Regions from separate parts of the Homo sapiens genome. Here region 1 is linked to region 2. Evidence: fine-mapped expression QTL. A gene starts in region 2. The other region holds a variant in brackets. All regions are shown on one strand. Distances are between the middles of the regions.

Evidence for each region.
Region 1: its variant is fine-mapped to the expression of NDE1 in spinal cord (GTEx, PIP 0.98).

What each region holds. Positions count from the first base shown.
Region 1 is chr16:15,694,728-15,700,096 of GRCh38, forward strand. It overlaps NDE1 (nudE neurodevelopment protein 1), which reads left to right. Exons shown (of 9, transcript NM_017668.3): 8 at 1,982-2,133. Among named protein-coding and RNA genes, the nearest start is that of NDE1, 47 kb to the left of the region's middle. The variant C/T (reference allele first, on the strand shown) is at 2,523.
Region 2 is chr16:15,648,198-15,653,566 of GRCh38, forward strand. NDE1 (nudE neurodevelopment protein 1) reads left to right here and starts at 2,048. Exons shown (of 9, transcript NM_017668.3): 1 at 2,048-2,097. RefSeq lists enhancers at 1,749-2,250, 2,251-2,750 and a silencer at 5,115-5,369.

The DNA.
Region 1 (5,369 bases), 47 kb after region 2:
TTACTGCCAGACACTCAGAGCTCTGACTCGAAGCCCTGCTCTGAACCCTATGTATGTCTCTTTCCTTTTACCGTTTTTCCTCTAGGAAATTTGGGAAATTAGGGTGATATGTGTGTTTTTTCCTTAACTCGAAAAATTAAGGAGCACTTGGAAACTGCCTTCTCTTTTGGCCGGGTGCTCATACCTGTAATCCCAGTGCTTTGGGAGGCCAAGGTGGGAGATTACTTGAGCTCAGGAGTCTGACACCAGCCCGGGCAACATGGTGAAACCCCCTGCCCCGACTTGGCCTCTACAAGAATGCAAAAATTAGCCAGGCCTGATGGTGTACACTGGTGGTCCCAGCTACTCAGGAGGCTGAGAGGTGGGAGGATTGCTTCAGCCTGGGAGGTTGAGGCTGAGTGAGCTGAGATTCCAACACTGCACTCCATCCTGGGTGACAGCACGACGTTGTCTCAGAAGAGAAAAAAACTGCCACCTTTTTTTTTTTTTTTTTTTTTTTTGGTTTGTTTCTTGGGGTTTAAGTGAATTTTGACACTTTGGGAGACCGAGATGGGTGGATCACCTGAAGTCAGGAATTCAAGACCAGCCTGGCCAACATGGTGAAACCCCATCTCTACTAAAAATACAAAAATTAGCCAGGAATGGTGGTGGGCACCTGCGATCCCAGCTACTTGAGAGGCTTATGCAGGAAAATTGTTTGAATCCGGGAGGCGGAGGTTGCAGTGAGCTGAGATCGCACCGCTGGGTGACAAAGTGAGACTTGGTCTCAAAAAAAAAAAAAAAAAAAATCTTGAAAGCCTAGGGCAAAGAATTTGGCCTTTCAGCTTTTATGTTAATTACAGGGAGGGATCCTTTTGTGCTTAAGTAAAAACATAGGTATTCTTTGTAGTTTATTTTTAAAAATGATGCCTAGAAGGCCACATAATTTAACTCCTACCAAGTTGTCACTGTACACAGTGTATTTGTAGCTACAACTTAATAGAAGCTTGCAACTCATTTCTTTTGTTTTTACTTCTGGTTTTTGGCTGTCTGGTTTGCTATTCTAGAAGCAGGTCTGCATTTCAGTATTTAGCCTAGTTGGAGTATAGAGAAGCCTGGGGTGCTGTCAGTGTCCTTTTGGTTTCCTCAGGGTCTGTTGTAGCCAGACCAAGTCCTTACCAAACTTCTTGCCATTCTGCAGAGGTTTAACAAGGTAAACCAAAGGGTGAAGGATTCCAGAAGTGGATTTCCTACTTCCTACAAGCGGAGTTGGATAATTGGTAGGTTAGTGATTTTTCCAGAAAGCTCCCATTTTAAAAAATTTTTTGTAATTAAAAAAGAATTTTTTTTTTTTTTTTAAGCCAAGCATGATTGTGCATAGTCCTAGCTATTCAGGAGGCTGAGGTGGAAGGATTGGTTGAGGCTGCAGTGAGCCGTGATCTTTTTCCAGGCAGCTCCCAAACATTTTAAAAAATTTTTCGTAATTAAAAAAAATTTTTTGCATTAAAAATTTTTTTTATTAACTGGGCATGATTGCGGATGCCTATAATTCCAGCTGCTCAGGAGGCTGAGGTGGGAGGGATTGGTTGAGCCTGGGAGGTTGAGGCTGCAGTGAGCTGTGATCTCACCAGTGCACTCCAGCCTGGGTGACACAGCGTCTAAAAAAGTAAAAAACAAAACAAAAAAAAAAACTGAGATGGGATCTTACTTTGTGGCCCAGGCTGGTCTCAAACTCCTGATGTCAAGCCATCCTCCTGCCTTGGCCTCCCAGAGTGCTGGGATTATAGGTGTGAGCCATTGTGCCCAGCCAGCTCCCAAATACTTAAGGTGCTTGGTTCTGAGACTGGCATATACGTTGGATTCCTCTTGGGGTCCCACCTTGGAATTCCAGTGCACAACAGTTTGAGAACCACTGTCTGGGGTTCGTTCTTCTGTACAGGCTCTGGTAAGACAGAATAGTCCTTGCCTATAACTTGAGAGATAAAAGTGTATTTCTGTCCAGGCACTGGAGTCCAAACTCGCTTCCTGCCGGAACCTCGTGTACGATCAGTCCCCAAACCGAACAGGTGGCCCAGCCTCTGGGCGGAGCAGCAAGAACAGAGATGGCGGGGAGAGACGGCCAAGCAGCACCAGCGTGCCTTTGGGTGATAAGGGGTCAGTACCTTCTAATAAACCTCTCGCTGGCGGGGAGAACCCGCCTGCCCCAGGCAAGAGACACTCACCCCCAGCCCACAGCCATGTGTCTTTTTAAATTATAGGATTATTTCAGCAAACCTTATCCTCTCCTCTGCTCCCTGCAGGCAGCATTAGGTGGTGTCTTGTGGCTTGAACAAAGGGCTAGAGAGAGGGTCTTGTTTTGTGAGACAGGGTCTCACTCTGTCACCTAGGCTAGAATACGATGGCAGGATCATGGCTCACCCTCTGCCTCCCAGCTCAAACGATCCTCCCACCTCAGTCCCCCGAGTAGCTGGGAGTACAGGTGCGTGTCACCGTGCTCGGCTAATTTTTTGTATTTTTTCTAGAGACAGGTTTTGCCATGTTGC[C/T]GAGTTTGGTCTCAAACTCTGAGCTTCAAGTGATCCTCACCCTTCATCCTCCCAAAGTGCTGCGACGACAGGTGTGGGCTACCATGCCTGGCCAAGAAGGTCATTTTTATCATTTGATTCTACAGCTGCTACTCACGGTTACACTGTGAGAATGTCCTGTATAAAAGCCCTTATTTGGGCCAGGTGTGGTGACGCTCGCCTGTAATCCCAGCAGTCTGGGAGGCCAAGGCAGGTGGATCACTTGAGGTCAGGAGTTCAAAACCAGTCTGGGCAACATTGGTAAAACCCCATCTCCACCAAAAAAAATAGAAAAATGAGCCAGGCATGGTAGCATGTGCCTATAGTCCCAGCTACTCAGGAGGCTGAGGAAGGAGAATCACTTGAACCCTGGAGGCAGAGATTGCAGTGAGCCAAAATTGTGCCTCTGCACAGCAGCCTGGGTGACAGAGCAAGACTCCATATCAAAAAGTTAATTAATTAGTTAAATAAAAATAAAGCCCTTATTTGGGGAATTGAGCATCAGTCATGGCTCTGCTTCCCCTGAAGTTTTTTTTTTTGTTTTGTTTTGTTTTTTTTTTGAGACGTCTTGCTCTGTCGCCTAGGCTGGAGTGTAGTGGCATGATCTCAGCTCACTGCAACCTCTGCCTCCCAAGTCCAAGCAATTCTCCTGCCTCAGCCTCCTGAGTAGCTGGGATTACAGGCGTGTGCCACCATGCCCAGCTAATTTTTTGTATTTTTAGTCGAGACGGGGTTTCACTGTGTTAGGATGGTCTTGATCTCGTGACATTGTGATCCACCCACCTCGGCCTCTCAAAGTGCTGGGATTACAGGCGTGAGCCACTGCAACCAGCCCTTTTTTTTCTTTTTAAATCTGTAGAACCTTTGAGAAACTGGCACTAACTTCTAGCCCAGACTATGTTCCTGAAACCAGCCACCCGATGGGACAGTGCAGATCTGATCTCTAACAGTGTCATTAATTTTCTTGCCTAAAGAAAATCAGGGCCAGGCTCAGTGGCTCACACTTGTAATCCCAGCACTTTGGGAGGCTGAGGGCAGCGGATCAATTGAGCTCTGGAGGTTGAGGCCGCAGTGAGCCGTGTTCCCAGCCACTGCACTCCAGCCTGGGTGATGAAGCGAGACCTTGTCTCAGAAAAAAAAGGGGCAGCTTTCAGATTCAGGAATTCTGCAAGGTGTGTGACTACCATCTCTCTGGGCCCCAAGCCGTAGGAATTTGATGGGTTTGTAGCAGACACGTGACAGGAAATTAAGAATATTTTCCATGGCATGCACATAACTTTGAGACCTTTACACGTGGATTTTTAGGCCAGGTGCAGTGAAGTGGCTCACACCTGTAATCCCAGCACTTTGGGAGGCAGAAGTGGGTGGATCACTTGAGGCCAGGAGTTCACAAGACCAAACTGGGCAACATGGTGAAACCCTATCTATACTAAAAATACGAAAATTAGCCGGGCATGGTCGCGGATGCCTGTAGTCCCAGCTGCTTGGGTGGCTGAGGCACAAGAATCACTTGAACCCAGGAAGTGGAGGTTGCAGTGAGCCAAGATTGCACCACTGAACTCCACTCTGGGCAACAGAGTGAGACTCTTTCTCAAGAAAAAAAAAAAAATTAATTTTTGTTTGTTTTCTTTCTACGAGACAGGGTTTTGCTGTGTCACCCAGGCTGGAGTGCAGTGGTGCGACCATAGCTCACTGCAGCCTCGTCCTCCTGGGCTCAAGCCATCTTCCTGCCTCAGCCTCCCAAGTAGCTGGGGCTACAGGTGCACACCACCACCCCTGGCTAATTTTTTTTATATTTTATAGAAACAGTCTTGCTATGTTGCCCAGACTGGTCTCAAACCTCCTGGCTTTGAGTTTGAGAATACACCTCTGAGACTGTAGTCTGCTTCTCATTGAGATTTCTAGAGGTGAGTTTTCAGATTAATTTTCCAGGCGATCTTCCCACCTTGACCTCCCAAGTGCTGGGGGTTACAAGCGTTAGCAATCATGCCTGGCCTTTTTTTTTTTTTGGAGACAGGGTCTCACTCTGTCACCCAGGCTAGACTGCGGTGGTGTGATCTCGGCTCACTGCAACCTCCGCCTCCTGGGCTCCAGCGATCCTTCCACCTCAGCCTACCAAGTAGCTGGGACTACACATGCAGGCCACCACACCCAGCTAATTTTTGTTTGCATTTTTCATAGAGACAGGGTCTCACTATGTTGCGTAGGCTGTAAAACAAACAAACAATAGGTAAGAGATGGATTTTTCTAGTGGGTCTGAGACTGGGCGTTTTGTGTGACCTTGGAATCTGAGAGCCAGGTAGCCAGTGTCCTCTTCTTCATTTCACAGGAGAGAAAATTGAGACCCTGTGAGACCCTGCTCCTGACTCTTGATGTTCACCCTTATAACTCTCTGGGCCCCGGTGCTAGCCAGTTTGTCACAGCTGTTATGTCAGCTTAATTTGGTTTGCTCTGTCTGAAGGTTGGGGAAGCGCCTGGAATTTGGGAAGCCGCCTTCACACATGTCTTCATCGCCGCTGCCGTCAGCCCAGGGGGTAGTCAAGATGTTGCTTTAGGAAAACCACGGAAGCTGAAGGTCTTGGTGTTGGTGCGGAAGTCGTTACCTTTTGTCGTCTTTTTACACTAGGTTTTTGTTTTAAGTTAGTTTGAGAAATAAGAGCAGTCACCATAGTTAGTTAGCTTTGCGGCCCAAGCCAATGACCGAGGCCATCACCTGTGCTCTGGGGTTTGTCCCTGGGAAATGTCTTTTCATCCTTACCTGCCACCGTGTGCATTGCAAAGAGGGACAAAAGGGGCTCTCTGGGAAGGGCTCTAAGTTGTCGGTGATGA
Region 2 (5,369 bases):
CTTTCTTTGTGTTACAAGCACTCCAATTATACTCCTTTAGTTATTTTAAAATGTACAATACATTGTTGTGGACTGTAGTCACCCTGCTGTGCTCCCAAATACTAGATCTTATTCATTCTAACTCTATTTTTGTACCCACTAACCAGAATGTTCGGTATTTGTTAATGAACATGTTATGACAGGATGTTTTAGAAGAAAATAAAGAAAAAAAGAAATTCCAGCCAAGCATGGTGGCTTGATTTTATTTATTTATTTATTTTGAGATGAAGTCTCCCTCTGTCTCCCAGGCTGGAATGCAGTGGCGTGATCTCCACTCACCGCAACCTCTGCCTTCTGAGTTACATGGCTCACGCCTGTAATCCCAGCACTTTGGGAGACTGAGGTGTATTGCTTGAGGTCAGGAGTTCGAGACCAGCCTGGCCAACACAGTGAAACCGTGTCTCTACTAAAAATACAAAAAATTAGCTGGGCGTAATGGTGGGCGCCTGTAATCCCAGCTACTAGGGAGACTAAGACAAGAAAATCGCTTGAATCTGGGAGGCAGAGGTTGCAGTGAGCCGAGATCGCACCATTGCACGCCAGCCTGGGCAACAAGAGGGAAACTCTGTCTCGAAAAGAAAAAAATTATTTTTTAATTTTAATTTGTTAGTGAACAATTAGGGTTGCTGTGAGAATTGTGCCTGGCACACACAGCCATTTAAAAATCACGATCTTCAGGCAGTGTGTGGTGGCTCACGCCTGTAATCCCAGGACTTTGGGAGGCCGAGGTGGGTGGATCACCTGAGGACAGGGATTCGAGAGCAGCCTGGCCAACATGGTGAAACCCCGTCTCTACTAAAAATATAAAAATTAGCCGGGTGTGGTGATGCGGGCCTGTGATCCCAGCTACTCGGGAGGCTGAAGCAGGAGAATTGCTTGAACTCAGAAGGCAGAGGTTGCAGTGAGTGGAGATCACGCCACTGCATTCCAGCCTGGGAGACAGAGGGAGATTTCATCTCAAAATAAATAAATAAACAAAATCAAGATCATTTAACAAATACATATATTGTACTTACTAAGTTCAAATTTCTGTTCTAAACGTTTTTACAAATGCTGTTAAGTCATTTAGTCCTCTGCATAATGTCGTTTGTTTGTTTGTCTGTTCTTTAAGACGGAGTCTTGCCCTGTCGCCTAGGCTAGAGTGCAGTGGTGTGATCTCGGCTCACTGCAACCGCCACCTCCCGGTTTCCCGTGATTCTCCTGCCTCAGCCTCCTGAGTAGCTGGGATTACAGGTGCGTGCCACCACATCCGGCTAATTTTTTGTATCTTTAGTAGAGACGGGGTTTCACCATGTGCCAGGCTGGTCTTGAACTCCTGACCTCGTGATCCACCCGCCTTGGCCTCCCAAAGTGCTGGGATTACAGGCGTGACCACCGCGCCAGACCCATAATGGCGTTTTATAGATGGGGAAACGGAGTCATAGAGGCTAAACAACTTTCCCAAGACCACACAGTTAGTAAGGGGCAGGACTAGGACTCAAAGCCAAGTTTATGACCAAATTCTGGTGCACTACGTTCTCCTGCTTCTGGAGAAGATAATGATGCTGAAGATTCTACTTTTGGTGTAAAGGAGTAGGAAGGGCACGGGGCACTGCTAGCTTCAGTGGGCCTGAATCTTTGTCTTTCCTTCTGATTTGGAGAAAGTGCAAGAATGGGAAAATGCAATCGAAGTGAAGGAGAGGCCGGCGTATTTTCCTGAAATGCGCGGCCCGCAAGCCCAAACCCGTTTCCCGGGTGTCCAGGCAGCGTTCTGCAGCATCTCCAATGCCCGCCAGCCCGCCGCAGCCCAGCGCCCGGCAGCCGGCGCCTCTCAAACCCCCTCCGGCCAGGAGCCTTCGCCGCTTGGCCGCGCCGCGCCCGGCCTGGGAAAAAAGTTTCCAAACGACGCTGCTCTGCGCTGATTGGCCGAGGCGGACGCGGTACCGTAGAGCAGCAGCCAATGGGAGGCGCCGACCGCAGGCTCCGGGGCGGGGGCGGGGTCCGGAGGGCCGGGGCCGCACCGCCCTTCGCAGCCGCCTCTGCCGCCGCCGCCGCGTTGGCCTCGCCGCCCCTGCTCGGGTAAGTGAGGCGCTGCGCGGGGCTGGGGTCGGGGTGGCTGTCCGGGGACCTCCACCGCGGCTGAAAAGCTCCTCTGCCCCGCCCCAGGATCCCGGGACCCCGGGCCACCGCCTGGCAGGGACCCCTACGCCCCTCGCTTGCGCGTCGCTTCCCGGCCGCCTGGACTCCCCCGGTCCCTGGGCTCCAAAATCCCGCCTCCCTGGAGCCTCCCGTCCTAAAAAGTTAGGCACTGAGTGCCTTGCCACCGGTGCGTTCCTCGCGCTGGCCCCTCGCCCTTGGCAACTTTGTTTCTCTTTCTGCGTTGGTCTCTCTCCCACCCCGTTGCCCTCTTCTCCTTCCGGGACTTCCTGGGTGGTTAAGCCTTGCCGGTCCCCAAACCCCGCTGCCAGGCTCCATCCTCTTTCTCCTCTTCCTTCCTCCCCATACTCCTCTCCTAGATGACCCTCGTTTCTTTTCTCTCTCTCTCCTATTCCTCCATCCTGCCACCCGCTTCTCTGCGACCCCAGACCCCTCGATTGCAGCGTTGCCCCTGCCCTCACACCCACTGTCCCGCCCCTGCAGGCCTCTTTCCAAAAACCCACCCTGCTCCCTCCCTCCGGGAACACGTTTGGGGCAGTCTGCTCTCCGCTTTGCTCCCGTCTCTGCCGCAGGACGGTTCAGGTTTCTTCTGACAGCACTTTGGGGAGGGATTGGGTAAAGGACGAAAATGCTTATTCCGCAGCTTGAGTGATGGCTGGGCTCACTGAGGACCTGAGTCTCTGAGGTCCTGGGAAACCCCGCTGTCACCTTGACACCGCTTTTGGGGAGGCGACTTTATCTTCTCCGAGCCATCTCAGGCTTTCTGCCTCCTGAGGGCCTGAGCTTCCTTGATTGCTTTGTCCGTGGTTACTACCAGGTTGTGCCTCTTAATTTCTACTTTGAGCCTCAGGCCCCTTTTAACTTTCTAAAGAAAAGGCCTTTGCAGCACGACCTAGGCAGGTTCATCATTTTTAGTTTTGTTATAGTGTATTCTAGCATAGGATGGCATTTTAGGACATGGGTCGGGTGTTTTGAAGATTAATTAGATCCCAGCTACTCCTAAAGCCTCTTGTTACCCGACCACCCCAGCCTCCATCACCTCGTTGGTATACAACCCGTTTTTTTTTTTTTTTTTTTGTTTTTGTTTTTGAGACAGAGTCTCACTCTCGCCCAGGTTGGAGTGCAGTGGTGCGATTTTGGCTCACTGCAACCTCCGCTTCCCGGGTTCAAGCGATTCTCCTGCCTCAGCCTCCGGAGTAGCTGGGACTACAGGTGCGTGCCACCACGCCTGGCTAATTTTTTGTATTTTTAGTAGAGATGGGGTTTCACCGTGTTAGCCAGGATGGTCTCGATTTCCTGACCTCGTGATCTGCCCCCTCGGCCTCCCAAAGTGCTGGGATTACAGGCGTGAGCCACCGTGCCGGCCTACAACCCATTTTGAGCCTTTCCTCTTAGTGTGTGTTTTGTGTAGGATTAAATGCAGATGATCTGTGCCGCTGAAGTCTCAGGGGCCTGTGATTCATATATTTTATCCCATGTTGGATAACAGTTTATTAACTTGACTTATTTTTGTTTCCAAAGTGTGTTATTTATTATTTATTTATTTATTTATTTTGAGACGGAGTCTTGTTCTTGTCCAGGCTGGAGTGCAGTGGCATGATCTCGACTCACTGCAACCTCAGTCCTCCGGGTTCAAGTGATTCTTCTGCCTCACCCTCCTGAGTAGCTGGGATTACAGGTGCGTGCCACCATGCCCGGCTAATTCTTAGTAGAGATGGGGTTTCACCATATTGGCCAGGCTGGTCTCAAACTTCTGACCTCGTGATCTGCCCACCTCAGCCTCCCAAAGTGTTGGGATTACAGGCATGAGCCACTGCACCCGACTCTATCATTATTATTATTTTTTATGTAGAGGCAGAATCTTGCTTTGTTGCCCAGGCTGGTCTCAAATTCCTGGGCTCAAGCAGTCCTCCTGCCTTGGCCTCCCACAGTGCTGAGATTACTTGCAGGCATGAGCCACTGCATGCAGCCCAAAGTGTGTTCTTTTGCCTTAGAATGTGAGCCGAGAATTGACACTCCTTTTCCTCACAAGGTAATTTCCTAACATGAGCATTCCTGTGTACAGAAAGTTTGTGCCTGCAGTTAGTACTACACGTGCACCTCGTGCAATGGATGTGGGTGCTTTTTGTCTGCCTCCTTCAGCAGTGCCCAGCACTTAGTAGGTATTCAAGAAATGTTTGAAAAGGGTTGGAGGAGGCAAAACCACAGTAGGAAAAATTCTTTCCCTGTCACTTGGTTCAGTAGAATAAAATTATCCTGGAACAATAGCTATTTTACTTTTTGTCCAAGTTTTTGTTTGTTTGTTTTTTGAGACGGGATCTCACTCTGTCGCCCAAGCTGGAACACAGTGATGCAATCACAGCTCACTGCAGTCTCGACCTCTCAGGCTCAAGCAATCCTCTTGCCTGAGCCTCCCAAGTAGCTGGGACTAAAAGCACATGCCACCATGCTTGGCTAATTTTTAAAATTTTTTGTAGAGATTGGGGTCTCACTATGTTGCCCAGGCTGGTCTCGAACTCCTGGGTTCAAGCGATCCTTCCGCCTCAGCCTCCCAACGTGCCGGGGTGGGAGAGAGCCACCGCGCCTGGCCTAAGCTTTTTAAAATCTCTAAAGCGATCTATGCTTACTGTATATATGTGTATGTAGTTTACCTTAAAGCAAGGTGTCAGGTACAAATCCACAGGGCTTGCTTTACCCCCATTCTGGTGCATCCTCCAGACCCTTTTCTATTCTGTGTACAGAGAGAGGGAAATAAACAAAAATGGGCACCCATTTTTAACATATCCTGAGCTTTCTTCCATATTAGTACTTACAGTTCTTAACAACTGCATCGTTTTCCATTCAGTCCTCTGTTGACATTGAGGTTTCCAGTTTTCCACATTCGTGAATGATGGTGTGCATCTTTGAACATGGGTCCTTGCCTGCCTAAGTATTTTTGTAGGTTGATCATTGTAAACTTGGAAAGCACAAAGACAGAAGCCAGGCTTGCTGACTCTTGACTGATGTTGCCCCAGTGATGTCACTCCTGCAAAATGCAAAGCCTGCGTCCTGGCTGTCGGAGCATGTGTGGACATTTGGCAGCTTCTTTCTCTTCCCTCCTGCTCTTCTGTTTGTTTTGATTGGGAAGGATATGGAGTGGGGATGGAGAAGGGTGTTGAGTAATTATCGATGGTTTCTGTATGTTTATTGCTCCT